2 separate regions of the Homo sapiens genome follow, and region 1 is linked to region 2. Evidence: fine-mapped expression QTL. A gene starts in region 2. The other region holds a variant in brackets. All regions are shown on one strand. Distances are from middle to middle.

Region 1 (15,571 bases), 180 kb before region 2:
CAGAACTGGACACTATTGACCATCCAAATGGAAATTCCCCTTTCTTGGTGTCTCTGACAAATGGTCCTTTGCCTTATCTTGTGCTGGTGGTGAAGAGGCCCTCAAAGCCAGGCCTCTCTATTCCTTTGACTGTCTCCTCAGCCATTAACCCATTCTTCATCCTCGGAGTGAGTGATTCCCAAGTCTTTGTCTTGGCTTAATCCCTAAAGAACCCAGTTCTGCTGGTATCGAATAGTTCAGCTTGGTTGTCATTGAAAGGAATTTCTCTCTTCTGTCCATCAGCCTGTCCCTCCCAACTGTCTAGGACAGTCTTCGGTCACCTAAATTCCTAACTGCAGACTTTTGCCCTTTTTCTCTCTCATCACCAAAGTCCCATCCATTTTTTTTTAATAAAAGATCCTCAGCTACAGTCTTTCCATTTTCCTTGCTTCTCTTATTGCACACCCCCAGCCCATTTTGCTTCTCTCTTGGATTTTGTTTTTTCAGATCCACATTTATTGGGTTTCCTGTCCAGCTTCTTGGAAAGGAGCTCACTCTTGGAAAGACTGATCTTTCCAAAATATTTTCCCTGGTCTGAAGCTTTGGTGTGAACTTCTCAAGGCTTAGAGAATCCAGTTACAGACCTTTTGGGGTTCAGGATGCTATAGATTGACACCCTCCTGCCTGTTTTTCTCTGCATCCCAACCTGGCCAAGGCCCCTCCTGTGGGGTGCCCATCTGTGCCTTTATTCCGGCTGTGCCCTCGACTTTCCAGCTTCCCATGTTTCTTTGGTTAGGTTTCTCTCCCTTCCTTCTTTCTCCTTCCCCAATCCGCCTGTTTCGTCAGGGCCCAGTTTGTTTCCTCATACACCTTCCTCACTACCCCACCCCACATGGTTGACTCTTTCCCTCAGCTCCACCAGCTCTTCATCATGCCACTCATTTCAGAACTTGAGCAAAACAGGGCAGTCAGGATCTGATGTCTTTCTGGTCTCCCTAAGAAAACTAAGCTCTTGAGGGACAGCCCTTGGCAATGCTTTCCTATCTGCTGATCATGGTGACCTTCCTTAGGACTTCCAGAGTTCAGTTCCTTCTGGCAGAGAGGTTTTCTTTCTCCATGCCATATGGATGTGACTCAAATGAGGGGTCCCACAGCTTTTCCTGGCTACCACTTGCTGTGACCTTATACATGTTGGGGTTTGCTCTTAAAGAGGAGAGCAGGAAGAAAGGTTGGTTTCAGAAACCAAGAGGGTCGGCAGTGGACGCGTACATTTTGTCACGGAGTCCACAGAGCTGAGCTTTTGAGCAGACTCTGAGAAGTATCATTGCTTGTGTTGAAAGAATACAACAGGATTTAAGTTTCTCTTTAGAAATTGCACTGAAGAAAGGCCGGGCGCGGTGGCTCCCCCTGTAATCCCAGCGCTTTGGGAGGCCGAGGCGGGGGGATCACGAGGTCAAGAGATCGAGACCATCCTGGCCAACATGGTGAAACCCCGTCTCTAATAAAAATACAAAAATTAGCCGGGCATGGTGACGTGCACCTGTAGTCCCAGCTACTAGATAGGCTGAGGCAGGAGAATTGCTTGAATCCGGGAGGCGGAGGTTGCAGTGAGCCGAGATCGTGCCACTGAACTCCAACCTGCCAATAGAGCGAGACTCCGTCTCAAAAAAAAAAAAAAAAAAGAAAGAAATAGCATTGAAGAAAATACCGCACATCAGAGGAAAGCTTATTTTCTGCATGGTGTCTTTTCAAAGATAGAATATTTGAAGCATGTTTTCTAGCGATTGTGTGGATGAGGGTGAGCTGGCTGAGGCATCGCTCAAGCTGGGGGGTGGTGTGTAAGAAGCACGTGGAGCCACAAGAGGCACCTCCTATAGTCAGCTAAGGGCTTCCCTTTCTGCGCCCAGCTTTTGGGTGAAGGGTGATTTCTATTAGACACATCTGTGCTTCAGTCATAGATGTTAATAGAGGAAGCAGTTTTCCTGCTGCAGATTCCTGAATAGAGTTGCTGAAAGAGTCTACTTCTGGACTCAGGGGAAGTTGAAGGCCAGTCTGTGTAGAAAGGCTGAGGCAACGGGGAAAGACCTGACAGCTAGTTACATACGCTCTGACATAGTACTCCCATGATGGCTTCCAGTGACACATGTGCTGATAGAATTCTAAACCTCTGGAATTTCCCTGCTGGCGACTTCTATGGCCGTTGACTGTACAGGGTAACCTGATGCCAGATGCTATGGGCGTGATGAGAACTAGAGCATTGCAGCATGGAGGAAACTGTGAGGCACCAGATCCTGTGCTTCTGCAGGCCATTTTCTGAAAACCCCTGTTAGGAAGGTTGGATTTGGCGTGACTTGCTTGAGCAAGAGTCCTGGGGAGAGATTTTGAGGTTTAATTTAACGGTATATCCAGAGCTAACAGTGACTCAACTCGTCTAGTTCTGCAAGTCAGATGTACACTTAGAGTCTCTCTGTGAAGGGTTTGGGTCTGAGCTGTATAGTATGTCAAACTGCCAGTAAGCCAGCCCCTCACCCTCTGATAGATATTCCTTTAATGCACCAGACTTCATGTTTGATAAATGATTAATGGTTGAAATTGTTTCTCTTCTTTTGTGTTTTCCCAGTTAATAGATGGTCACTGTTTCCACAATGTTTTATACTTTCAGCTTTTTGTAACTTAACTATAATTACTTAATTTTATTTTTTTAAAGCTTGTTGTGGTCTAATGAGAAGTATTTTTCAGTGCATAATGTTTTTCTGAGCTTCTGTAAATGCCATCCCAATGTGGTTTGGTTTTGTTGAACAGAAACCAAAATAAATTTCAAAATGTTAAAGCAATGGATTTAATACATTTATTTATTTATTTATTTTATTTTATTTTTGAGACAGAGTCTTGCTCTGTCACCAGGCTGGAGTGCAGTGGTATGATCTTGGCTCACTGCAACCTCCGCCTCCCAGGTTCAAGCGATTCTCCTGCCTCAGCCTCCCGAGTAGCTGGGACTACAGGTGCGTGCCACCACGCCCAGCTAATTTTTGCATTTTTAGTGGAGACGGGGTTTCACCATGTTGGCCAGGATGGTCTCAATCTCTTCTTCGTGATCCGCCCACTTTGGCCTCCCAAAGTGCTGGGATTACAGGTGTAAGCCACCACGCTCGGCCAATAAATTTATTAATATTATATTAAGATGAACTCCAATAAGACCTTTGGCATGTCAGTTTAACATAAGTGAAAGGTCCTTTTTATGCCTTTTGAGCCTTCCTTCACCTTCCATCCAACACACACATGTACCAGTAAATTGCAGATGCCATTTCTGGGCTTTGCACACTTTCTCTGGCTTTCCATGTTCTGCTCCTGACCAACTCTCTTGCCACCTGACTCCTCCCAGCCTGGCTGCCTGCTTTCAGTAGCTGGGCCATTGCTGGGAACACTCTGTTGCCTCCCTGTGCTGTCCTCTGCTGTGCCATTGTGTGGAATGCCCTGCAGCCTGCCTCAACACAATGAAGTAATCTTACCAGTCGATGCCCTGACTCCTGACGTCACCCTTCCCTGCCCTGTGTCACCTTTCCCTGCATATTTGGAGGATAAGGCTTGATTGAGGCTCGGGTACCGAGCTCCCTGAAGGTGCCTTGATGCTGGCACATCGAGAACCAGATGCCACCCCGATGATAAGGAAGACAGACCCGGGACTTCCATATGAATTGGGTATGATCGTCTGACATGCACCCTACTAACTGATGGATCCTGCTGTTACCCCAAAGCTCCAGAACCACACTGGCCAGACACAGGCATTTCCTGTCCCCTGAAGAGCCACTGAACCCAGCACAAAAGAGATCTAGAGCTCTCCAAACCTATGGAATGGCAACCAAAACCATGCCCAGGTTTTGAGTTAAGCCTCATTAGTCTCCCTTTTCCCTTGACAGTGTAGAACTGTGCAGCGTAGCACTAAGTGAATGAGAGCAGAAGCCTCAGGACAGAACTGAACCCACCAGCTTGAGCTGACAACACTGCCAGGGGTTCTGTCCACAGATGGAATATTCGCTTTGATCACTGAGTTAGGAGGCATGGGTGAGGGATGCAGAGCGCCGCTCGTCATGAGACATCAAGCTATCCAAGTCAATATCCTATTAGTAGGGATGGCATATTATAGAAGGTGGAAAGATCTCACCTGCCCCAGCTGGAAACAGTGATTCCATTGCCCCAGATTCGGAATTGTGATTTAAACTAGGCCTCTCTTCAGGCATCAGAACCAAATAAGAGTGGTTTATATGTGCAAGGAACTAATGCCCCAGCTATTGGGCAAATTCCTCTGACTCCTCCCTGATGGAACTAATTCTTCTGTGCCCAGATCCTAGAGACAAGATCCTTAAGGTCTGAGTACAAGTTCCACTTCAGGATGGCGCTGCTGCACAGCAGGGCACCTTGCAGGGCCCCTACCAGTCCACAGGTGAAGATACCCTGGCCTAGGAGGCAAGAGCAGAGGCCCCTGAGTGTGCACCCAGGCAGGCCCAGGGGAGGGTGGGGCCTTGGTGCTCTTCCCTCCACATGAGGGCCACCCAGAGCTGGCTCCAATCAGACAGGGGCCACAGCCTGCCCAGGCAGCCCTGCTCAGGGGATGGGAGGCTGCAGGGGACAGCAGGGCCTGAGGGCAGGAACAGAGGACGTTGGGCGACAGGGGCCCAGGGTCTCAGGTCCTGACAACATGGGGCAGTGAGTATACCTGTCAGAGGTTGGTGATGGGGCTCTGGGCCTTCAAGGCCATCACACGAGGGTGCAGGCGGCCCAGGTCATGGTCAGCCCTGTAGCAGACACCTCGGGGAGCAGCCAGAACTGGTTGGTGAGTGGGGATCCTGCAGTCACACTCTCCACCTGAGGGCAGAAAGGGTGGGGCAGGCATGTGAGATCCTGGCTCCCCTCCCTCTTCCACTCTTTCCCATTCACTGACTCCGGGGTTGGGTGCCCTGTCCTTCCCTGGGGCTCATGTCTTGGGGCCCAATTCCCCTGTCTCAAGGAAAGGGCAGAAATAGCACCATGAGGTCCGTCACCACCCCAAATACTTTACCCCCTACCTTCCCCTCCAGCTGTGGGAACAGTTTCAGGACCACTGACATAGAGGCTTCCACAAAGAAGTTTTTGAAGGTCTCATAGTCACTGCCCTACTTTCCCTTCAGTTCCACCTGCCACTCCTCAAACCACTCGTAGGTGCTGGGTATGAGCATGATCATGGTGGACCGGCCTGGGGATCAGAGCTGATATTACTACTGCCCGGCCCCTCCCTCCACCCCCTCACCCAGGACGTGCAGCCCCCCGTGGGAATCGGTCCTCCCAGGTCGGATCCTTGGCTGATGGGAAAGCGAAGAAGAGAAGAGGGATGTGTTCCGCAGCCTCTTCCCTGGGCATGGAGATGTAGCGCTCCATCCTGCGTGTGACAAGAGTGTGGTGCGATCTCCAGGCTTTTGTCCTCAAAACCCCAGAACCACTGCAAGGACTGCTCGTCCCTAGGGACTCCCCACAGGGGTGAAGCTGAGCCACAGCCTTGGTGTGACAAACTTCCAGGTGCAAATTGGAAATTGCCTACTTCCTCCCATTCCATAACTTCTGCTCGTTCTCTGAGTCAAGCAGGGAGGCACGGGCCACACACACACGTGCACCTTACGCCTGGTCCATGTCCGTGTCATAGTAAACATAGTAGTTGGTGGACGGCAGATGCAGGTCCTCCTTGGTGCCTCGCAGGCAGATGAAAACAGAGGTCATGCCTAAGCCGGGCTGAACTGTCCCCAGCTGCTGCTTCACACCTGCAAAGGGGAGTGGTTGGTGCCTTTGTGGACCATGGCCGGAGACAGCCACTCCCTGCTCCCAGGAGAGCCTCAGGGTGACCGCTCGCTGTGTCCTGAGCCTTATCTTCAGTTGCCAGCTTTGTGCCCAGGCCACTTTTACAGCTGTTTCAACTTGATGTTGGCAGGGGCCTGCTCTTCTGTGTCCTCCTGCCTGGGAAGGACACTGCCCCAGGTTCCTATTCTTCCACCTCCCCTGCCTCTGCTCCAAGCCCCTTCAGAGGCAGGTAAAGCCCAGCCCTGGTCCTCAGCCCCCATGAGCTGGCTCAGCACCTGCAGGAAGGTCAAGCTTACTGCCTCCCATCTTCCCCTTCGTGTCTTGAAGTGTGGAGCACATGACTGGGTTCCCCCCATGAAGACCACACATGAACAGCAGCTCATTACCAGCCTGATTTCAGGATGAACTTTTATGCAGTCACGGAGTGAGTGAACATGCATGATTCTTAGTGTGACATCAGAACACAAGGCCTCCAGAGGGATGCCAATGCATGTGAGCAAAGGCAGGCAGCCTGACTGGTACTTGGCATCTCAGGACTCAGCTGGAGGGAGGAGGGAAGAACTACACTATGGCAGAGGCCACAGCCACTGTGGGGCACCTGATGTTCCCCAGACCTAAACAGCTGGGCTTCCCCACTCCTCAGCAGATGACCTGAGACCGGTGTTCCGGAAACTGCCCCCACAGATTCTTCTGCTGTCTTCCCATTCCCGTGCCAGAGGGATGCCGGGTCCCTGGCTCCTCTGCTTTTTCCATTTTTTAAAAAATTTATTTATTTTTAGATGGAGTCTTGCTCCGTCGCCCAGGCTGGCATGCAGTTGCGCGATCTCTGTTCACTGCAACCGCCTCCCGTGCTCAAGCGATTCTCCTGCCTCAGCCTCCCAAGTAGCTGGGATTACAGGCATGTACCACCACACCCACTAATGTTTGTATTTTCGGTAGAGATGGGGTTTCACCACGTTGGCCAGGCTATTTTCAAACTCCTGACCTCAAGTGATCTGCCTGCCTCGTCCTCCCAAAGTGCTGGGATTGAAGGCGTGAGTCACCGTGCCCGGCCTGCTTCGTTCATGTAACTAAATATTTGTGAGGCCCTCAGGTTGTGTTCAGGAGGAAGAGACACAGGAACACAGATGGAGGGCAAGAGGGACAGATGGCTCTAGCTGGGCTGCCTGGGTGAGATGCTGGGGCCTGGCCAGGACAGTGTCAGTTCCCAGAGGTCCTGGGACAGGGGAGAAGGGAGGTCAGGGTCACAGAGAGAGAGGCAGGAAGTAGCAAAGGCAGAGTCTGCCTGTGCACCAAGCCCGACCCCCCTGCTCTGCCCCTGGGCCGTCTCTACCTCACCCCCTCAGCTCCCCCGGTCTGAGAGAGGGGAGGCCGAGCAGGCTGCAGACCCAGCCACATGGGGCAGGGGAAGGAGAGGCTGGCATTGGTGGAGCCACCCACTGCACTGCCAGTCATACAAAGAAGTCTATCACACAGAATTATGTGCAGTATTTTTTTTTTTTGAGACAGAGTTTTGATCTTGTCTCTCAGGCTGGGTTGCAATGGCACAATCTCGGCTCACTGCAACCTCCACCTCCTGGCTTCAAGCGATTCTCTGGCCTCAGCCTCCCGAGTAGCTGGGACTACAGGCGGCCGCCACCATGCCCGGGTAAGTTTTGTATTTTTAGTAGAGAGGTTTCACCATGTTGGCCAGGCTGGTCTCGAACTCCTGACCTCAGGTGATCTGCCCGTCTCGGCCTCCCAATGTGTTGGGATTACAGGCGTGAACCACCGCGCCTGGCCTATAGTACTTTTTAATGAACGAAATGACTATGTTACTGGTTTATGTATTTGCTATATTTTTATTGTTTTAAACAAAAAAGTTTAAGAAGTAAAAAAAAAAATGTTTTTGTTTTTGTTTTCTTTGAGAGGGAGTCTCGCATTGCTGCCCAGGCTGGAGTACAGTGGCATGATCTCAGCTCACTGCAACCTCCGCCTCCCGGGTTCAAGAGATTCTCCTGCCTCAACCTCCCTAGTAGCTGGGATTACAGGCGCCCGCCACCGTGTCCGGCTAATTTTTATATTTTTAGTAGAGTTGGGGTTTTGAGGTCATGGTCTCAAACTCTTGATCTCAAGTGATCTGCCCACCTTGGCCTCCCAAAATGCTGAGATTAGCAGGCATAAGCTACTGCACCCAGCCCCAAAAAAGACTTTAATTAGAAAAAAGCTCATAGAATAAGGATATAAAGAAAATATCTTTGTGCAGCTGTACAGTGTATTTGCGTTTTAAGCTAAGTGTTATTACAAGAGTCAAAAAGTGTTTAAGTTGATAAAGTAAAAAAGTTAAACTAAGGTTAATTTATTCTTGAAGAAAGAAGAATATTTCTTTATAAACCTAGTGTTGCCTAAGTGTACAGCGTCATGGTTACTCACCACTCACTGACGCACCCAGAGCAGCTGCCAGTCCTGCAAGCTCCATGCCTGGGAAATGCCCTATACAGCTATGCCATCTTTTATCTTGTTTTTTGTTTTTTTTTTCCCCAAGACAGAATTTTGATCTTGTTGCCCAGGCTGGAGTGCAACGGTGCGATCTCGGCTCACCGCAACCTCTGCCTCCTGGGTTCAAGCAATTCTCCTGCCTCAGCCACCTGAGTAGCTGGGATTACAGGCGCCCACCACCACGCCCAGTTACTTTTTGTATTTTTAGTAGAGACGGGGTTTCATCATGTTGGCCAGGCTGGTCGCTAACTCCTGACCTCAGGTGATCCACCCTGCTCGGCCTCCCAAAGTGCTGGGATTACAGGCTTGAGCCACTGCACCCGGCCCATCTTTTATCTTTTACACCAGATTTTACTGCACCTTTTCTATGTTTTGTTTCTGTTTTTTTTGAGAAAGAGTCTCACTCTGTCGCCCAGGGTGGAGTGCAGTGGTGCGCTTTCGGCTTACTGCAAACTCTGCCTCCCGGGTTCAAGTGATTCTTGTGCCTCAGCCTCCTAAGTAGCTGGGATTACAGGCATGTGCCACACACCTGGCTAATTTTTGTATTTTTAGTAGAGATGGGGTTTCAACATGTTGGCCAGGTTGGTCTCGAACTCCTGACCTCAAGTGATCCACCTGCCTGACCTCAAGTGATCCACCTGCCTCGGCCTCCCAAAGTGCTGGGATTACAGGCGTGAGCCACCACGCCCAGCCACCTTTTCTATGTTTAGATACATAAACACTCACCACTGTGTCACAGTCACCTACAGTATTCAGTACAGTAGCATATGCTGTACAGGCTTGTAGCCTAGGAGCAATAGGCTATACCATATAGCCTAGGTGTGTACACCATCTAGGTTTTTCTAACTACACTCTATGATGTTCACACAATAAAATTGCCCAACGACGCATTTGTGAGAACGTTGTCTCAGTTGCTAAGCGATGCATGACTGTATATGAAATGTCTAGAATAGACAAGTTTGGAGACAGAAAGTAGATTAGTGGTTGCCTAGGGCTGGGGGAGATGGGCAAAATGTGGAGTGATTTTCAAAGGATATGGGGCTTCCTTTGGGACTGACAAAAACTTTCTAAAATTGACTGGTGATAGGTGCACAACTCTGAACATACAGCCAATGAATTGTCTACTTTTTTTTCTTTTCTGAGATGAAGTTTTGCTCTGTTGCCCAGGCTGGAGTGCAATGGCGCTGTCTCGGCTCACTGCAACCTCCACCTCCCGGGTTTAAGCGATTCTCCTGTCTCAGCCTCCCAAGTAGCTGGGATTACAGGTGCGCACCATCATGCCTGGCTAATTTTTGTATTTTTAGTAGAGACGGGGTTTCGCCATGTTGGCCAGGCTGGTCTCGAACTCCTGACCTCAGGTGATCCACCCGCCTCGGCCTCCCAAAGTGCTAGGATTACAGGTGTGAGCCATCGCACCCAGCCTGAATTGTATACCTTTTTTGTTTGAGGCAGAGTCTTACTCTGTTGAGAAGGCTGGAATGCAGTGGCACAATCATAACTCACTGCAGTCTTGAGCTCCTGAGCTCAAGCAATCCTCCTGCCTCAGCCTCCTGAGAAGCTGGGACTACAGGCTTGTGTGCCACCATCCCCAGCTAGTTGCTTTTTTTTTTTTTTTTAAAGAGATCAGGTCTTGCTATGTTGCCCAGGCTAGTCCTGAACTCCTGGCCTCAAGTCATCTTCCTGCCTCAGCCTCTCAAAGCATTGGGATTATAGGCAAGAGCGGCTCTGCCCAGCTGAACTGTATACTTTAAATGGGTGAAGTGTAACTTTAAATGGCTGAAGTATATCTCCATAAAGCTGTTACAAAAAATTAATTGTGGTGCTAGATACTATGGAAAGTATCCAAAAGATGCTTCCTCACATCTTGGCAATTACGAGTCAAATGGGTGATAGAAGCATAAGCTGAATGTCATTCCAGGCGGCAAATTCATTTAAATCAGCTGTGAAAATGATTACCCCCTTTGCAGCTCAGTCATGGACACTGACTGGCCCATGCACATTTGAGACAGGAAGCTGGGTTCAGGTTTTCTAAGGGTGTCAGGCATGCCTAACATTCCCCTGTGGCAAGTGGCAATCTTCCTTTGCATATCTGCGAAAGTCTAACACAGGGTTTGGGAGTGAAACAAACAGGTGGTTTGATTCAACAAAAGCACTAAAGAAACACTCAGAAAAGGTCTTGCAACTGCAATTTTATTTTCTTTTGTGAAAATAAACAACTGGGAGTTTAAATTGCTCCAAAAACCATAAAAACAAAAAGAAATACACACAGAAGAAGCATGTGAGGTGATGGGGAAGGGAACAGGGTCTCTAGAACTTTGGCAGATTGTGCTGGCACGGACCCAGGTGACAGGAGCCAGACCATGGGGCCGGTCCCGCCTGCCACTCTGGGATTGTGAAGGGATGATCGCCACTGGCAAGGACGGGGAGGAACACAGACTTCTTCGCTGAGGAAGTGGCAGGCACCTTGAGTCCCTTTAAATGCGGGGGTTGGGAGGAAACCATTTCAGAGGACCGCTTTCTCCACTGAAAGCTGGGGCTGGCGAGTTCGGGCCCACTGAGGGAGGGGACGCTGGTGGCAGCAAATCAGGCCAAGATGTCTTCTCACATGGTGATGGCCTCACACTGGGCAGAGGACAGAGGACGAAGAAGAACCCACGGTATTGAGCAGA[C/T]GATGAAAACTTGGGCTGGGTAACAGGAAATGTCACAATGGCAGAGCTGCAGATGGAGTCGGGGAAGCTGGGGCAGGCGGCAGGGGCGAGAAGAGACAGGAGACAGAAAGTGCAAGAGAGGTAAGAGAGAGAAGTGCCCTCTGCCCAGGTCCATCCACCACAGCACCTACAGGACGAATAGCACGCTACTTTTCAGTTCTCTTTCTTATAAAGATTTTTTTTTGTTGTTTTGTTTTGTTTTTTAAAAAAGCCTTAAGATCAGCTACTGGTTACATCTACAAACTGTAAAGTGCTGTTGTTACCAGCCACTTTACAGAACAGTCCAGAGTGGTCAAATATTGACCAATAAAGTCTCCTTTTTCTTTTTCTTCTGAATCATTACTACTCAATGAGTCATGTGACAGCCTGCAGGGGTCGGGGGGAGCTTAGTGGGCAGACTTGGTGACCAGGGAAAGAGGCTGGGCCTGTAGCACCGGGAGGGCCTGGTGGGCATGGAGCGTGGCGGGGAAGGACGGGGGAGAGGCCAGCAGAGCTGTGGGCATGGACCCAAGGGGGAGGGGCCGGGACAGGAGGGGAGGCTGGCTGCCCATCTGCCCAGAGGAGGAGGCTGCAGCCTTAGCCGACAGGAAGGCGGCAGAGTGGAGAGCCAGCTGGGCCCGGGTTTCTGGTTTGGTGGTGAGGGAGAGGGGCTGGGCTTGCTCCGAATGGGTGGCAGCAGGGGCAGCTGGTGAGGCCAAAGCTGCAGAGGGAGTGGCCGGGGAGTCCAGCATGCTCCCGTGGGAGGAGGCAGGGCTGTCACAGGGCTTCTCGGGGGGCAGGTACTGAACACATGGCTTCTTGCTCTTGGAGGCCAGGGCACCTAGGGGGAAAATACAAGAAAGAGTGAGCAGCTATAGCTCTGTGAGAGGAGGAGGCTGAGGAACAGCCCTGGCGATACATGTGCTTTGGAGACACAGGGATGATTTTGGCGAGGACCTGACATTACTTCCAAGGCTTTCAAGACTAGGAAACTGCATTCACAAATACCCAGAGCACAGAGAAGAGGCAACGCCCAAACTGATGAAGATCCACCCAGCATCAGATCGGAGAGAAGACGGCTCAGTGTCTCACAGGACCACCCTCCTTTCCTAAAGCTGGTAACTTTTGGGATGAATCTCCAGTTTGCTTTGAAATCTTTGGTTTATGGTATTAATACAGTCAGAGAGAGTGCATGCCTGCTGAACAGCGTGCCAGACAGCGGGTTCTGTAGCAGGTACGGGTTCCACTCATGTGCGCTCCTATGTATAATGGAAGGAAGGAAGGAAGGGAGGAGGGGAGGCAAGGAAATAGGGAGGGAGGGAAGGAGAAAGGGAGGGCGGAAGGAGAAAGCGAGGGAAGAAGAAAGGGAGGGGGGGAAGGGAGGGAAGGAGGGGGAGAGGGAGGGAAAGAGAGGGAGGGAAAGAGAAAGGGAGGGAGAAAAGGAGGGAGGGAAGGGGAAAGGGAGGGAAGGAGAATGGGAGGGAAGGTGAAAGGGAGGGAGGAAGAAAGGGAGGGAGGGAGGAATGAAGAAGAGAGATTGAAAGCACTTTACATCGTGCAAGCAGCGATACACTTGTCCTGGAGTGAGCATGAGATGGGGGGCGTGACCTAAATATTAATAATAATCGTCACAGTGTGAGCATCTTTCTGTGCTAGGCATGATTCTGGTAATATAGAGATTTTATACATGGTTTTGACACAAAGTGCCTCCTAAACCCAAGCAAACTAATTTTTTCTGGTGTTCAACCAAAGAAACATCCAAGGAAACCCGGGCTCCCCTGGATCCACTGACAGGTGGGATGTCAGGGGCTCATGTGCTGCCTTCCTAAGGGTATTTCAAAGACAATTTCAACCTCATTCCATTAACCCTCAGGTAGGATGATTCACTTTTCAATGGAATTAGATTGTCTAGGCTTTGAAGTGACAAAGTCCTGGGATCAAATCCTACCACCACCACTGAAGCAGAGTGCCTGGGAAAATGCCTTCACATCTCAGAGCCTCTTAAGTGGCCACCTCGAGAAAGGGGTAATAATACCCGCCCGCGAATACCGAGGCAGAAGCCCTGACCCATCAGGGAGCTAGAGACAGCATGGGCAGGTGTGGCTGTGACAAAAGGAAAAGCAGGAGAAGAGGCCAGTGCCCCGAGACGCACCCTCTGCCTCCTGGACTTGCTGCTGTGACTGTGTCTGGGACAGCTGCTTTTCTCTCTTCCTCTTCTTTTTCTTACCCTGGAAAATACAGCCAAAGGAAGAGGTAAGCTGGGAGAGAAGAATGCTGGCTTCTCAGGGGCTCCCAGATCAGAGAGAAGACAGGACGTTGCCCTTTACTGCTCTCGATCCCTCAGGGAGAGTGTGGAGAGATAATTCAGATCACAGCCGTGGGAGCCCGTGAGGAGGCAGAGGGAGCCCTTCCTCCCCTACAAACGCGTTTCCCCTCCAGGTCGGGTGTCCAGGCCTTCTTGGAAGGCCTCCTCCCTCCACTGCCCTTCAGACTCTGTTTTTCTGTTTCTCTCCCTAGAACAGTGCTTCTAGATCTTTTCTGAGGGGTCCCAGGTCCCTTTGAAAGTTTGATGCAACTGTGGGTCCTCTTACCAGAAAAAAAGCAAAGAAGAACACGCATGCGAAAATTGGCTTGGTTTCCGGGAGCTTAGAGACACGCCCCCTGAGGCTCACACACTGGTCTTTGAGCCCTGGGTTAGGAGTGGCTGGAGACAACTCTTCCTACCACAGCTAACCCCGTGCCCTGTGTTATGAAATCGAGGGCAGAGTCCAGTTCAAAGGGAAATGCATCAACTGAAGTCCGTCCTCAGGACTTGTTGACCTCCTGAGAATTAAAACACCTTCCTTATTTCTAGAGAAGTATGGGCTTCTCCCTGATCTTAAGAGTCCTCTATAAATGCAGTCGCTGGCCGGGCGCGGTGGCTCACGCCTGTAATCCCAGCGCTTTGGGAGGCCGAGGTGGGCGGATCACGAGGTCAGGAGCTCGAGACCATCCTGGTTAACACAGTGAAACCCCGTCTCTACTAAAAATACAAAAAATTAGCCGGGTGTGGTGGCAGGTGCCTGTAGTCCCAGCTACTCGGGAGGCTGAGACAGGAGAATGGTGTGAACCGGGGAGGCGGAGCTTGCAGTGAGCCGAGATCGCGCCACTGCATGCACTCCAGCCTGGGTGACAGGGTGAGCCTCTGTCTCAAAAAATAAAAGAAAATAAAATAAATAAAAATAAATGCAGTTGCTTTCCTTCACCCTTCCTCCTCTTGCAGAGGCTGTTCCTGGGGTCTGAGCGTCCTCTGCCCAGAGTGTGCACTTACATAGTTGTCCCGGGCTGACCAGGTTGGGTAGAGCTGCGAGTGAAGCTGCCGCTCCTTCCGGGCCAGCTCGTAGTACTTGGCCTGTTCTTCTCGAGACAGGTTGTGCCACTGGGGGAGAGAGGGTCAGAGACCACACGGAGCCATCAATGCAGGGACGCTGCCTCCCTGGCCTGGAGGGAGAGGGCAGGTCTTACCTTTCTTCCAAGGATCTGGTTAATGGCTGCACTTTCCTTCAGGGTGCACTCAGCCACCACCTTGGCCCTCATCTCCTTCATATACAACATGAAGGCATTCAGAGGCTTCTTCACGTGGGGCTTCTTTTCCTCCTCCTTTTTCACGGTGACTGGTGATTTCCTGGGAAGGCACGTGGTTGTAGGTTAGCATGTCAGGTGTCACACAACTCATCAATCCCCACCTGTCACTGAAACACCGCTGATTGTCTCTGGGGAGGGGCGCGGGCTGCCTGGATGCTAATTCAAGTGGCCCCATGGCTGCACTCAACACCTGAGTACCTTCCTCCCGTAGTTTCCCACCTTTGAACGATCTCCACGCCAGATTCTTTGAAAATCTACTCTCCAATTTCCTGACAGAGGAACAGAGCATGGTGGGGTTGCTGAGATGAGCTCTCACTGGAGCTGGCAGGTGCTGGCGGCGGTGACAGGACACAGTGTGGGGCACTCTGGGCAGAACCAAGTTGGGAGGGGGTTCTCTTGGGATCTCCAGGGAGCACTGACTTTGGCTTCCTGCCATCTTTATGGTACACGGGCAAGGTAAGGACCCTGGTGCTCATCTCAGCTCGGCCACCAGCCCACCACAAGTCCTTAAGAAAACACTGTCTCCTTTCTGGGCCTCACCTTTTCATATATCTTACGGTGGGGTGTTAAAAGCTTTCTCAGGTTCTCTTTCAGCCTCTGAGACCTGACAGTAAAACTTTCCTTAATAAGAGAGAAGATGCACCATGTCCCTGAAAGGACAGGGACCCAGAAGGTCAGAGGGAGTAAGTCCCGAGGAAGAGGGAGGGCCTGGCTGGGGAGGCTGTGATGCCTGCTGAGTGACACCAAGAGAGAAGAGTACATGACATTTGCTGCTCAGAGTGTGGCCACCCCTCCCCACAGCCTGCACCCTCCCACCTGAATCCAGGCTGCCGCTTACTTACACGCTCACTGCAGGGCTCAGGCTGGGGGGTGCCGGTTCCTGCTTGACGATGGGGGAGACGATGGCAGGGTGGGGGATCCCTGAGGTGGGCAGGCCAGGGTGGGCAGGAGCCACCATGTGAGGAGAGAACCGACTG
Region 2 (15,571 bases):
GAGTGCAATGGTGCGATCTCAGCTCACTGCAACCTCTGCCTCCCAGGTTAAAGCAATTCTCCTGCCTCAGCCTCCCAAGTAGCTGGGATACAGGTGCCGCCTCCTGGGTTCAAGTGATTCTCCTACCTCAGCCTCCTGAGTACCCGGGATTACAGGCACCTGCCACCACGCCCAGCTGATTTCTGTATTTTTAGTAGAGACAGGGTTTCCACTGTGTTTGCCAGGCTGATCTCGAACTCCTGACCTCAGGTGATCCACCCGCCTTGACCTCCCAAAGAGCTGGGATTACAGACATGAGCCACTGCACCTGGCCTCCCACTTTCTTTCCCTCCAGCTTCCACCATGGAGGAAAAGAAAGGGGGAGGGGAGTCCCTAAGTGCTTCTCCTACCTTACCCAATGCTCCCTTCCATCCTCCTCCAACGACTTCTGTCCCTGCTCTAAGCATCCCTTCTCCTACTTCTATACCTCTCTTACATCAGCCAGTTTCAATCATCCCCTCAACATCCCCTCACACCTAACGTGTCTCCAATGAAACCGAGGGTTCCTCCCAATGAGAGCCTCTCATAGACTGTGTGGGCTCTGTCATCGCCAAAATATTCAGTAAGCATCTGTCCACCACTGGGGAGGTAGAGACTGGGGAGGCCTCCCCACCCACAGAAGTCAGTCTCCAGGTGCCTGAGCTTGGACACCAGGAATTAACTGTGACATCAGCCACTTTCTGGATCTGGTACCTCCCCTCCCCAAAGAGGTACAGACAAGAATCCTATTTCCTCCCATCCCACCTTTCCTTTCCACTCTGCTACTCTGAAGCCCTTTTCACCTCACCCCTGACTCCTGTGAGTCTAATTGCTCTATCCCCTTCCAGGTCCTCGTCCTCCAATCCACCATTATCTTTCTAGCCATGTGTACAAGTCACATCACTTCCCAGCCTAACTTCTGATGGTTCTCTGCTGCCTCTTAAATAAGATCAGATTCCTTCCATGGCATTCTAGGTCCCCTAGCCCATGTCCTGGCCCCTTCTCCTTCCAGGCAAATGGAACTGAAATAAGCTGCATTACCCCCAAATCGCCCTGAACTTTTCCTTCCTCCATGTCTTCACTCTCCTGGTCCTGGCTCCCACCTCAAGATGAGAGTGAAGGAAGACTTCCACTTTTTCACTCTAAATGCCTCCTCTTACTATTTACATTCTTCTAAATTAACAAGAATTACCTGGATTAAAGAATGACTGAGTTTTAAGGACCAGTTTAAACCTACTTCTTCGACCTGCCTTCTTGGATCACCCAGGAAGTAATTTTTCTCAATTTCTATTATGAAAATGCTTCTCCAGACTTTACTACCTCTTAACTTCTTATTACAGTGCTACCATGACTTCTTTCCTACTTAATTTTTAAATCCTTTAGGGCAAAGCCTGGGTCTTATCTTGTTTCCCATGGTCCCTTAGCCATTGCCCATGATAGGTATCCAATAGACTTCAGTTGAAGAAGTTTAAGAGTTAGGAATTAGTTTTAAGAGTGCAAATCTAGGCTGGGCGCAGTGGCTCACGCCTGTAATCCCAGCACTTTGGGAGGCCGAGACAGGTGGATCACGAGGTCAGGAGTTCGAGACCAGCCTGGCCAACATGGTGAAACCCTGTCTCTACTAAAAATACAAAAATTGGCTGGGCGTGGTGGCACGCACCTGTAATCCCAGCTACTCAGGAGGCTGAGGCAGGAGAATCACTTGAACCCAGGAGGTGGAGGTTGCAGTGAGCCAAGATCACACCACTACACTCCAGCCTGGGCGACAGAGTGAGACCCTGTCTAAAAAAAGAAAGAAAAGAAAAAAAAAAAGAAAAGTGTAAATCTAAATTTCCCTAGGTTGGCATGTAAAAGGTGTCTCTAAATTAGAATGTAAGTAGGGCCTTCCTATTATAGAAGATTTAAAAGATTTTCCAGCGAGTTAATCATTTATACTCTTTTTTATTTCCCAATTATTTTAGTAACACTGCACATCACTGTAAAGGCTGGAATACGCTGTTAGATTGGGTGGGGGTGTGTGTGTATGTTTTGCTTCCCTTTTCTTCAAGAATCCCTAAAAGTGTGATCAATGAAGAATGTGACCAAACTATAACCTTCCAAACTTATAACAAATCAAGTCAGCTATTCCCTGCCCAATCCACCCAACCAAAGAAAAAAGATTGACAGGTTCCCAGTCCTTCCCTACAGAGTTTGTCACCAATATCACCCCAGCAATCCAAGGGCGAAAACTTCAGCAACACAGGCCCTCTCAAAAGCTTGTTCCATGTGAAAAGCCCTCATTAAACTCTGAGTTATATTTAGAAAAAAAAATGAAACAGAAGTTATATTTAGATGAAATGGCTCAAAAGAATTTTACCAAAAGCAGCATGTTTATACTGATCTTCCAAAAGAAAAGGTTTCCTTAGCTTTTACATACAACTCCTAAAAACAGACAACTTCTTCATACATATACATACAAAGATTTCTGCTTGGGTTCCTTTGGGTCTGAAAGAACAGGAGCTCCCAGGATATGAGCAAGACTGCCCATGGGAAGCAGTGGGATATAAAGGACTTAAAAATGAGCACGCGTTTGAGGACCAGGACAATTTCATACACAAGCCTGAGATGAGATGGTCTGAGAAATAATAAAGCAAAGCCTTTCGTGTGCTTGTGCTGAACGAAAGAGGTTCTGTAATTTATAAGATGGACACAAAAACCACAGACTCCCTCAGCAATACTACCTAGAAGTGTTTCTTTCCAAAATGTCATCAGCCCTCACTTCATGGTCACAGTCAAATTACTTTCTATCACATTGTAGCTGGCTTGCTGAACCACATTCAACATTTTCTTTTTGGCTCTTCTTTGTCTTAAACCATTTTTGGCATTCACTTTCTAATGTGTTGACTTACATTTTCTTTCTTTCTTTTTTTTTTTTTTTTTGAGGCAGAGTCTCACTCTGTTGCCCAGACTGGAGTGAAGTGGCACAATCTCAGCTCATTGCAACCTCTGCCTCCCGGGTTTAAGAGATTCTCATGCCTCAGTCTCCAATGTAGCTGGAATTGCAGGTGCTCGCCAGCACGCCTGGCTAATTTTTGTATTTTTAGTACAGATGGGGTTTCACCATGTTGGCCAGGCTGGTCTCGAACTCCCGACCTCAGGTGATCCGCCCGCCTTGGCCTCCCAAAGTGCTGGGATTACAGGCCTAAGCCACCGCACCCAGCCAACTTACATTTTCCTAACAAAATTCTAGGCAACAGCCCCAAAGTAGTTTAGTAAACCGTGAAGCCTTTTCAGAAATGAATGTATAATTTTGAGGTGATTATTTGAAAAATGGTTTGTGGCAGTTATTCCTCTCTTCACAGGGTCCCAGGGCCTCCAGACAAGAAGCAATTGCAGCTCACAGAGACTTGGCCCACATCCCATGCTGAGGGGACCTCTTCTCTAAAGAGCCTCAGGAAAAAGCCACTTCCCAGCATCCCAGCCAAACCAGAGTGGAGGGCAAGGGTGATGGCTCATGGGGAGAGATGGCCAGACTGTAGGATGGGCCAGCCCCCAGTGGTCTCAGCAGGAATTATGCCAGTGGGTGAGGCTGCTGAAGCCTCCTGCCTGCTATTCCTAGGGTTCATTAACACCCTGAAAACAATCCAGACAATTCCCACTTCTGCATCTGGCTTGGTATTTCCAGAGGAAGTGTTAGAGCAGCAGATAACTGGGGTCACCTAATTTTATACTACCTCTAGGCCTTAGAGCAGCAAAGCCTAAAGTGGTGCAGTTTAGAGGCCAAACAATAAAAAAGACCTAAGATGTCAGAGAGATCGGATCATATATCCCAGGCACTTTCCTCCCTCCTCCCTCCCCACTCGTATCTATCCACATTCATTTTACCAGGCTGGGAAACCAACAGAGGGCCACTTTGTCTGTACCTACCATTTGCCTACAGTGACAATTATCTTAATTATATTAATAGAATCGTTCAGCAGAAAACCATCATCTCCACCCTATAGTCCAGACAACCAAGTGCTTAAGTGTTTCCTCACTTGCTTTACTTACTGGCAGCAAACGAACAGGGTCAAATTAGGTTTAACTGTGCTGACCTAAGGGCAGGACACTTCCCCAGTATATCCGTGAACTAACACAGCGAAAGGCACACAGAGACACAGAAACACTGGGAACTGAACTAACTTCTGTAAGGGCAAGTCACCAGGGAGACAAGATGTAGGTATGGGGGTGGGATGGGACATACTAAGTCCCCAAGAAAGTACATGTCCTAGGAGGCTTGAAAGGAGGCTGGTGCCTGGGCCAGGGCAGGGAACAACTGCAGAGATGAACAAGGACAGTCAGAGAGGCATGCAGAGACGAAAGGTTGGCTGCCTCAAGGAGGGGCTCCAAAATCCCACACGGGCCTGGATTTAGTAATCAGGAATCTCCAGGATCAGCAAGAATCAGCCTTTGGAAGTTCTTAGGCGAAAGAACACATAATGTGATAGAAGGAAGGAAGGAGGGGACACTAACAAAAATCTGTCTCACTTGGACTGTCAGAGAGAGCAGACAGCAGAGCCTGGATGAATCAAAATGCCCTAAAGAGAAATGGGTGCATGGAGAAATAGCCTTGAGGGAGCCATAGTCATATTTGATGGTGAAATAGTCATTTCTGGTGACTTTAACTGCATCAGGACTTGGCTGAGGGCTGATGCACAGATGCTAGTGCCTCCCAGACCCCTCTCTCTAGATATCCTAATAGTAAATGGAAACCTGAGACTTTAGCGGCATTAACTCTCCCCCATACGCAAAGTTACACGAATCCCAACAAAACTTGCAGAACTAAGCTACATGTGTGGGCACTGGTGGGAATCACTGAAAACCTAAATAAGACCGCAGCAGCTCGTTGATCCCCCCCCCCCTTTGATTGGCACGCACCTCTTTTCTTTTAATGAGAAAAAGCAACAGCCATAGACCCACATCCAGTTTTCACTGCAAAACTGACACTTACATTCAGGACTTCCTGGGGTGCTCCAGGCCAGCAGGGCCAAAGCTGCAAGACCTCCCTCCCTCTCGGGGCAAAACTGTGAGGTCTGTGTAGTCCCACTCCCCATTCCCCTCTCTCTCAGTCAGAGTCTCTTCCACCGCCCCCCGTCAATCCCCCTCCAACCCATCTGGTGATGGTAGCGCCCCCGCTGAACCAAATGTGGAGGACTTGGCTCTCCACCGACCGCTGTACAATGACAGCAGGAATGGCCATTCAGCACCTAGCCTTTCTCTAGCACCCTTTAATTATCGTCGTTATTTTAGGGCAGTCTTAGCATAAAGTGTGTTGCTGGGACCCTGCTCCTAAGAGGCTAACACTCCCTGCCCCCTTACCCACCGTCGACAGCGAAGTGGCAGGCAATGGGAATCTGGGCGGGAAGCAAAGAACTACTACGATTCACATCGCGCCCAAGCAGCAGCACGCGGGAACCTGGCACACAGTAGGTAGGCGTTCACCCAACATCTGTCATCGGACCCAGCACCTGGGCAGGGAGCCTAGGGGTGGAGTGGCGGCTTGGGGGACACAAAGGCCTCGCCAGCCCCCAGCTGCGCCCCTCGCAACGCGGGGGGCGGGAGTTTAGAGCCAGAGAGAGGGGGCGAAGGAATCCGCCCTCATTTGCACGTCGTCTGGGGCCCGGTCAATTTGCTTAATCACCGCTCTAAATGCCAGCGGGCAGCACACAATACGCGCCCATTAACAGGTTTAAAGTGTCGCAGCGCTCGCTTTAAATGAGAAAAGCAGGCGACAAAAGGGGGAAAAAGCCAAGTTCCTCAACTTGAAGAATGCCTTGGGTCGCCTCGAAATCATCTACGCGAGTTTAAAATTCGGAGCTAGCTCCGCAGAAAAGCTGAGGCCCCGGTGCGAGGGCTGGGGGTGGGAACGGGGGCTGTGAATAACCCGCCACGAAAACTGGGTTTCTTAGGAACCAGCCTGCAGCCGCCCAGTGAACCCGGAGTCGGAGGACAACGTCGCCAACCCAGCTCCCTAGGCCCCTTGCCCCACTGCCAGAGAAAGCTGACCGATTTCCAAGAAGGAAAGCGAGACCCCCCCAAAGCGGGCACAAATCCAAGTTTCCTTCGGTGCAGGCGAAGAATTCTGGAGGCCAAGGAAGATCCCAGAGGTGGACTCCAAAACCTCAACCCGCAAGAGGGGAAAAGTTAAAGTAACTTTACTTTCATCCAGGCACTGGCCAGCGCAGCCTCGCGCTCGGCCGCCAGAGAGTAGTTCAACTCCGCAAACAAGTTCTGCTTGGGATCGGCGCAGAAGGCCCCATCCCCCACTCCATGGCCAAGCCCGGGGGCGCATCCTGCGGGCCGCGGCCTCCCACCCTCCCCGGCGCGCCCGACGGGCACTCACGGTGCGCGCTCCTCCGGGAGACAGGGGTCCGTTGGAGAGGTACGGGCTGCTCAGGTCCGGGATCATCAGGAAGGGGTACCCAGGGTACGGGGGTCCTTTAAAGAACGCGCTGTCCTGAGGCCTTCTCACTGCGAACAAGACCAAGGCGAGGTGAGGCCCAGGCCCCCGGGACTGACAGCGCCGCGGCAGGGGGCTCGAGGCGGGAGCTGGGGACCCCAGCGCCCCCCACGCGCGCCCCACGGGGGCTGCCGCCAATAAAGGCGGAGGGCAAGGGTGCGTCCACCCAAGCAAGGGGGACGGTGGGCCGCCCGGGCTGAGCAGCGGAGCGCAGCGGGAATCGAGAGTGGGGGGCTGTCCCAGCGGGCACATACCTTCGGCGAAATAGTCCCGCGGCTTCTGGAAAGTGTCCCGGACGGGCTGCGGGCGCCTCTCCGCCTGCGGAGGAGACACAAAGGCAAGAGCGGGTGAGCGGACGCAGGGCCGGGATCCCCCGGGGGTGGCCGCGGTGCTTCCTTACCTCCGAGTCCGAGCTGCTGCTCTGGTTCTCCGACTCGTTGACCAGGGACGACTTGACCTCGTCTAGGTCCCGCTGCGCCGAGGCGCTATCGCTGCTCGGCTCCTGCTCCTCGCCCCCCTCGTCCTGGAAGGGGATCAGCTCGTCGTTCGCCCCGAGGTCGTCCCCTCCGCCGGCCGCCCCGGCGCTGGAGCCGCCGCCTCCCCCGCTGCCGCCGCCGCCGCCGCCGCCCCCGCCGCCGAGCTGGGGCATGGTGGGGCCGCGGGCCGGGGCCGCCGCTCTCGGAGCCCCTAGCCGCCCGCGCCCTGCCCGGCCCGGCCCGGCGCCCCTCCCGCCCGCTTGCGGGCCCGCTGCGCTAGCCGCCGCAACAAAGTTTGACAGGGCGTGGCCCCGCGGGAAGCGGGCCCGGCGCTGCCCGGCCGGGGCGCAGGCGGCTCGGCTCGGGCCCCTCCGGCAGCGCCGAGCCTAGGGCTCCCCAACTCGCCACCGCCGCCGCCTGCTCCGCCGGGGCGTCCCAGCCCCTGGCCCGCCGGGGAGGGGCGAGCGGGGAGGGAGGGAGGAGGGACCGCCGGGCTGGGCAGGGGGGCCGGAGGGAGGAGCCCCGGCTGCAAGCTGACACCCGCGCGCCTCGCGGAACCCGGAGAGCTGCGGTGCGCGCGCACACACACACATACACACGCACTCACACTCACACGTTCACACTCGCATCTTCCAGGGGCTGCGTCTCCCTGCAACGTGCACCGCCCCCAACCCCCTCCTGCGCCTCACACTGCACCCTCGGCGGCCCTCCCCACGGCCTCCCTGGAGTCCTGGAAGTCTTGCGCCCACCCCTCCGCATCCCCTAACTTTCTCCCAAAGAACCTCCAGAACTCCGCGCAGGTTCCCACCCCCTCCCACCGTATCGGCGCGCGGGCGGGCGGCACTGCCCCCTGCGGGAAAGCCTCGGACGCACATACTGGCCGCGGGGCCCTCCCCCTGCCTAGAGTCCCTCCGAGTGCGCGAGCTGATGCACGGACTAGGACACTGGGGACATCTATGGAACCCCGGAAAATGCCCGGCGGCTTTCCGCGCCTTTTTCCTGTGGGGTTCCAACGCGACCCCCGGCCCAGGTTTTCAACCTTGTACAGATATACAGATTTCCCTGCTGAAATCTTGAAGATCACCTTTTCTTCATTGTTTGGGACTAGGTCCTAAATCGAAAAATCGCGGTCTTGGGTTCCAAAAGAATTTGGATTTGGTTCATTGAGAGGGAAAATTGCCTGTCCAGTGATCTCCGAAGCCATTCACAAAGCTGCGTGAGTAGCCAGTGAACACGAGAAAAATGCTCAACCAGCCTCATACCTAAGTAATGCCTGTGGTGCGAGCGCCACGGCCCGCGCCTGGAGTTCCATCTACTCCCGAGGCCTAGGCAGGAGGATCGCTGGAGCCCAGGAGTTTGAGACCAGCCTGGGCAACATAGCAAGACCTTGTCTCCAAAAAAAAAATTTTTTTAATAAAGAAATGCCTGTTACAATGACATTAAGATGTCGTTTCTCTCCAACCTGTGCGGGAAAGTTTGAGGAAAATGAATATCTTGTGTTATCCTCCGTGGGGAACTATTAGAGCATAAACTTTGAAAACAGCTTGGAAGGCAGTATGGAACTATGTAAAACTATTTTCAGCCCAACTGGCAGAAGAGTTTCTACAGAGGTGCCCGCACATATGGGCAAAGCCACATATGCTAGGTTCAAAGCATCAGAGAGCTTGGTGACATGCATTCTTCATCTTTCTTTACAGTGACAGTCCATGCAGCTGGCCAGTTCTATGCAGTGTCCCCGCCCCTCCCCCCACCCATACACACACACACACACACACACACACACACACACACACACACACACACAGGCACATGGACCAAGATTGATTTTGGAGGAACATCTTTAAATGAAACACTATATATGACACTCACTATTTTATTTTTGTTTTTAAAAAAATTATACACATTTATTTCTGCGTAGAAAAAAATCTGAGAAGATGCAAATTATTATCAATGACTATTTCTGGGAAAGGATAAGTGAAAGGAGATAGTTTTCTGGTTTCTATGAACTTTATAACAAGCAGATATGCCTTTTCTAATTTTTTACACAATACATGAGTACAGTCTCATAAAGCGTTTTCAAATAACAGATGTATCTTGAGCAGTATCGAGTAACAAGTAAAAGTTCCTCTTTCCCCCTCAGGACACAGGACCCTTCTAATTAACCACTTTCAGTTAACTGCCTCTGGTTAACCACTGTCACTAGTTTGGTATATATCCTTCCAGACACTTTCCTAGGCAGTTATGAACATATGTAAACGTATTTACAGATATTCTGATGTACATACATAGAATCATACTCTTTGTATTATTGTGTGTTATTTTATTTTTATAAGATTTAAAAGTCAGACGATTTTTCATGTTTATGGTCCATAAATATATGAAAAACCTATTGTACTAGTTTTCTGCTGCTACTGTCACAAATCACGAAAACTTGGTGGCTTAAAACAACAGAAGTTTATCCTCTCATAGTTGTGGAAGACAGAAGTCCACTGTCAGTTTCACTGAGTAGAAATGGAGGTGTTGACGGGGCCATGCTCCCTCTGGAGGCTCCGAAAAGAATCTACCCTTGTCTCTTGCAGCTTCTGGGGGCTTGTGACCACATCACTCCCACCCTTGCGTCTGTAATCACATTGCCTTCTCCTTTTTTTGTCTGTGACAAATTTTCCTCTGCCCCCTTCTTGTAAGAAACCATACTTGTGGCCGGGCACAGTGGCTCACGCCTGTAATCCCAGCTCTTTGGGAAACCAAGGCAGGTGGATCACGAGGTCAGGAGTTCCAGACCAGCCTGGCCAACATGGTGAAACCCTGTCTCTACCAAAAATACAAAAAATTGGCCAGGTGTGGTGGCAGGCGCCTGTAATCCCCGCTACTTGGGAGGCTGAGGCAGGAGAATCGCTTGAATTTGGAGGGAGGAGGTTGCAGTGAGCTGAGATGGCACCACTGCACTCCGGCCTTGGCGACAGAGTGAGACTCTGTCTCAAAAAAAAAAAAAAAAAAAAAAAAGTGATACTTGTGATAGCATTTAAGGACCACCTGGATAACCTGTCCATGTCAAAATCCTTAACTTCATATCTGCAAAGACCTCTTTTCCTTAAACATTCACAGTTTCCAGGGATTAGGTCATAGATGCAGCTTTGGGAGTAAGCCATTATCAGCCTGCCACACCTATAAACCAGAAATGCAAACGGAAACAGCATTGAGATAACCAGTTTTCATCTGTCAGATTGGCAAAGGAAGAAAAGAATGGTAACACCCAGCATTGGCCCCTATACTAAGAAGCACATAGATGCTGGGCCATTGTGTAACAGTTCTAAAGAGAAGTTTGGTAATACCTGTGAAATACCTTTAAAAGTGTGAACCCTTTGACTTATCCACGTACTTCTAGGATTTTATCTGAAGGAAACAACTAGGTACAAAAATAAACCTGTAGAAGTGTGTTCATCACAGTGAAAAAATCTAGAAACAATTTCAATGTCCCCTATAGGGAATTATTAAGTTAAATCATGGTGCATTCATCTAATGGAATGTTATGACATTGTGGAGATATATTTGTCAATATAGAAGGAGGCTCATAATGGTAAGCAAAAGTAGCAAATTAAAATTAACATGTAGACTTCCACTTCCCATTCTAATGGGGTATTGATGTCAGATTGACTCCTTCATCAAGAACAACTAACTATAAACTGGATAAAATACCAAAATAAAACAACAAAACCCAGCTGAGTTGAAGGCATCACTGTCAACCAAGTCAGCCAGGACGTGAGGAGTCAAAATACCAGAAGGGAAATTCATTCAAGCGAGTTTGTATTCACTGCTGTTTCATCCCCTCAGAGAATTTGGTGATTTGTAGCACCAGGCATAGAGGCCAAACCAAAAACAACCATCTAGAGCAGCATACTACAGCTTGCTGCCTGTTTTTGAATGGTCTCAGCTAAGACTTTTTTTTTTTACTTTTTTTTTTTTTTTTTTGAGACGGAGTTTCACTCTTGTTGCCCAGACTGGAGTGCAATGGTGCCATCTCGGCTCACTGCAACCTCCACCTCCCGAGTTCAAGCAATTTTCCTGCTTCAGCCTCCTGAGTAGCTGGGAATGTAGGCATGCACCACCACGCCCGGCTAATTTTGTATTTTTAGTAGAGACGGGGTTTCTCCATGTTGACCAGGCTGGTCTCGAATTCCTGACCTCAGGTGATCCGCCCAAGTGCTGGTTTTACAGGTGTGAGCCACGTCGCCCGGCCGCTTTTTTTACATTTTTAAGTGGTTGAAAAAGATCATAAGGGCCAGGCGCAGTGGCTCACGGCTGTAATCCCAGCACTTTGGGAGGCCGAGGCGGGTGGATCACCTGAGGTCAGAAATTCAAGACCATCCTGGTCAACACGGTGAAACCCCGTCTCTACTAAAAATACAAAAAATTAGCCGGTCGTGGTGGCGGGCGCCTGTAATCCCAGCTACTCAGGAGGCTGAGGCAGGAGAATGGCGTGAACCCGGGAGACGGAGCTTGCAGTGAGCCGAGATCGTGCCACTGCACTCCAGCCTGGGCGACAGAGCGAGACTCCGTTTCAAAAAAAAAAAAAAAAAAAAAATTAGCCAGGCGTGGTAGCAGATGCCTGTAACCCGGGAGGCGGAGGTTGCAGTGAGCCGAGATCGCGCCGTTGCGCTCCAGCCTGGGCAACAAGAGCGAAATTTTGTCCCAAAAAATAAAAATAAAAATAAGGATAATATTTATGACACATGAAAATTATATGAAATTCAAATATCAGTGTTGATAAAGTTTTATTGGAACATAGCCATACTCCTTAGCCTATACATTGCCAATGGCTGCTTTCACAAAACAATGATGGAGTTTAGGACATGTATTGCTTAATGATAGGGATACATTCTGAGAAATAGGCAATTTCATTGCTCTGTGAACATATGGAGTATACACAAACCTAGGTGGTATAGCCTACTACACACCTAGAGTATATGGTATAGCCTGTTTCTCCTAGGTTACAAACCTGTTCACCATGTTACTGTACTGAATACTGCAGGTAACTGTAATACATTGGTACGTGTGTATCCAAACATATGTAAAGATAGAAAAGGCACAGTAAAAATATAGTATTACAATTTTATGGGACCCTATCATGTATGTGATCCCTCATTGACCAAAACTTTGTTATATGGTGCCTGACTGTAGTTGCAACAGGGACAGTATATGCTCTTATCACTTCATACTGCTGCTCAGTACACCACAAATCACGGTGATACAGTGTTTTCAGTGCCATGCATATCTCTGTACTGCGACATTTATTTTAAATTTTTATTACCAGGGCATATCCATTATGTCAAAACAAGAAAAGAAAAGTAGATGTATTCATCCGTTGCCACACTACTATAAAGAAGTACCTGAGACTGGGTAATTTATGAAGAAAAGAGGTTTAATTGACTCACAGTTCCACAGGCTTAACAGGAAGCATGACTGGAAAGCCTCAGGAAACTTACAGTCATGGCAGAAGGTGAAGGGGAAGCAAGCGACTTCTTCACATGGTGGCAGGAGAGAGAGACAGAGAGGAAGCGCTACACATTTTCAAACAACCAGATCTCGTAAGAACTCTACCATGAGAACAGCAAGAAAGAAGGTCCCCCTGCCCCGTGATTCAGTCACCTCCACGAGGCCCCTCCTTCAACTCATGGGGATTACAATGCAACATGAGATTTGGATGGAGACACAGAGCCAAACCATATCAGTAGACTATGAATTTTGTGCTTTGAAGGCACAGTGAAGTATGGATTATTTTATTAGCAAATTAGGTGACAAAGCGTTGTGTTTAGTATGCAACAACAGCAGTTATGCTAAGAGAACATATGTCAACATCACGAGAGTAAGCACTCATCAACAATTTTCCCAACTGAGAGGAAAGGAATGACCAGAAAAATTTAAAAATTGAAATCAAGCGGGGCGCGGTGGCTCACGCCTGTAATCCCAGCACTTTGGGAGGCTGAGGCAGGTGGATTGCCTGAGGTCAGGAGTTCGAGACCAGCCTGGCCAAGATAGTGAAACCCTGTCTCTACTAAAAATACAAAAAATTAGCTGGGCATGGTGGCGGGCACCTGTAATCCCAGCTACTAGGGAGGCTGAGGCAGGAGAATCGCTTGAACCCAGGAGGCGGAGGTTGCAGTGAGCCAAGATCACACCATTGTACTCCACCCTAGGCAACAAGAGCGAAACTCCATCTCAAAAAAAAATTGAAATCAGAATATCTAATCACAGCAAAATTTCTTCACAAAGTAAGTGTCCTAGAGGCTCATTTGTTAGTAAAGCAAGGAGAGCTATTAACTGATGGTGACTTAATTAAATTGTACTCAAGAGCAGTAGCCACAGAAATATGTCCAGAGAAAATAAACTTGCCTTTCACCATTGCTAAAAGAGTTTAGGACATTGAAAATAACATCAATAGTCAATGGGGATTGGGTGCAGTGGCTCACCTGTAATCCCAGCACTTTGGGAGGCCGAGGCAGGCAGATCACCTGAGGTCAGGAGTTTGAGACCAGCCTGGCCAACATGGCAAAACCTTATCTCTACTAAAAATACAAAAATTAGCCGGATGTGGTGGCGCACACTTGCAATCTGAACTACTCAGGAGGCTGAGGCAGGATAACTGCTTGAACCCGGAAGGTGGAGGTTGCAGTGAGCTGAGATTGTGCCACTGCACTCCAGCCTGGGCGACAGAGCGAGACTCCATCTCAAAAATAAATAAAATAAAATAAAATACATGACAACAATAGGACAAAAGGCAGAGGGGGGATATGGCATTGAACCAAACTAAGGTTGTCTGAGAAGTCGTGAAAGTAGGAATTTAAAGTACACTCTAGTAGGCCAGGCGTGGTGGCCCATGCCTGTAATCCCAGCACTTTGGAAGGCTGAGGGTGGTGGATCACTTGAGGTCAGGAGTTTGAGACCAGCCTGGCCAACATGTCGAAACCCCGTATCTACTAAAAATACAAAAATTAACTGGGCATGGTGGCGCACACCTGTAATCTCAGTTGCTAGGAGGGCTGGAGCAGGAGAATTGCTTGAACCCAGAAGGCAGAGGTTGCAGTGAGCCGAGATTGTGTCACTGCACTCCAGCCTGGGAGAGAGAACAAGACTCTGTCTCAATAAATAAATAAATAAATAAGGTGCACTCTAGTAAGTCAAGAATGCATGTGTTCATCCCTAGAATAACACTCACTGAATAATTAAAGAATGTATAACTGGCTGGGTGTGGTGGCTCACACGTGTAATCCCAGCACTTTGGGTGGCCTAGGCAGGTGGTCAGAAGTTCGAGACCAGCCTGATCAACACGGTGAAACCCCTTCTCTATTAAAAATACAAAAATTAGCCAGGCATGGTGGCACACACCTGTGGTCCCAGCTATCTGGGAGGCTGAGGTAGGAGAATCACTTGAACCCAGGAGGCAGAGGTTGCAGTGAGCCGAGATTGTGCCACTGCATTCCAGCCTGGGTGACAGAGGGAGGCTTTGTCTCAAAAAAAAAAAAAAAAAGAAAAGAATATTACTAACAAACTAATGAGCAAGAAAGAAGAAAGGAGACAAAAATTAAAGAACAAATGAGACAAATAAAAATATATTAAAATGATACAGTCAAAATTTCAGTAATTATTTTAAATGTATATGATCTAAACACTCCAAATTTAAAGACAAGATTTTTAGAGTATATTTTTAAAAAGCAGCTATCTGCTGCTTACAAAAGCTACACCCTTGAGGTGATGACAAATCAGGTTGAAAGTAAAAAGAGGGAGAAGGATAAACATAAAAAATGCTAACCTAAAGAAAGCTGATTAGCTGGGCACGGTGGCTCATGCCTGTAATCCTAGCACTTTGGGAGGTTAAGGCGGGCAGATCACGAGGTCAAGAGATCGAGACCCTCCTGGCCAATATGGTGAAACCCTGTCTCTACTAAAAATACAAAAATTAGCTGGGTGTGTTGGCATGCGCCTGTAGTCCCAGCTACTCGGGAGGCGGAGGCAGGAGAATCACTTGAACTCAGGAGGCAGAGGTTGCAGTGAGACAAGATCGTGCCACTGCACTCCAGCCTGGCGACAGAGTGAGACATCGTCTCAAAAATAAATAAATAAATAAAAGAAAGCAAGCTGATTAGGCCGAGTGCAGTGGCTCCCGCCTGTAATCCCAGCACTTTAGGAGGCTGAGGCAGGTGGATCATTTGAGGCCAGGAGTTCAAGACCAGCCTAGCCAAGATGGTGAAACCTCATCTCTACTAAAAAAATTAAAATTAGGTGGGCATGGTGATACATGCCTGTAATCCCAGCTACTCAGGAGGCTGAAGCAGGAGAATTGCTTGAAACCATTAGGCAGCAAGATTCCGCCATTGCATTCCAGATTTCAGCCTGGGCAACAGAGTAAGACTCCGGGGATAGCGTGGGGGAAGAAAGCTGATTTATCTATACTAATGTTAGATGAAGTAGGCTTTAAAACAAAAATATTAGTAGAAATAAGTGGGACATTTCATCATGATAAAAGGGGAAGATAAAAATAACTCAAAATTTTCATTTACCTAATAACATAGTTTCAAAAATATGCGTAAAAACAGAACGAAAA

What was found. PIP is the estimated chance that this variant, and not a neighbour inherited with it, causes the effect.
Region 1: its variant is fine-mapped to the expression of TCF7L1 in whole blood (TOPMed, PIP 0.98).

The regions. Positions count from the first base shown.
Region 1 is chr2:85,305,269-85,320,839 of GRCh38, reverse strand. It overlaps TCF7L1 (transcription factor 7 like 1), which reads right to left. Exons shown (of 12, transcript NM_031283.3): 8 at 15,437-15,571; 9 at 14,475-14,634; 10 at 14,281-14,388; 11 at 13,123-13,198; 12 at 10,453-11,811. The coding sequence ends at 11,378. It overlaps TGOLN2 (trans-golgi network protein 2), which reads left to right. Exons shown (of 4, transcript NM_006464.4): 4 at 1-2,813. Among named protein-coding and RNA genes, the nearest start is that of TGOLN2, 15 kb to the left of the region's middle. RefSeq lists enhancers at 6,955-7,455, 10,321-11,204, 14,127-14,627. The variant C/T (reference allele first, on the strand shown) is at 10,953.
Region 2 is chr2:85,125,259-85,140,829 of GRCh38, reverse strand. It overlaps TCF7L1 (transcription factor 7 like 1), which reads right to left and starts at 7,438. Exons shown (of 12, transcript NM_031283.3): 1 at 6,897-7,438; 2 at 6,751-6,814; 3 at 6,380-6,507. The coding sequence starts at 7,145. RefSeq lists enhancers at 5,105-5,678, 5,679-6,253, 6,829-7,403 and a silencer at 7,769-7,838.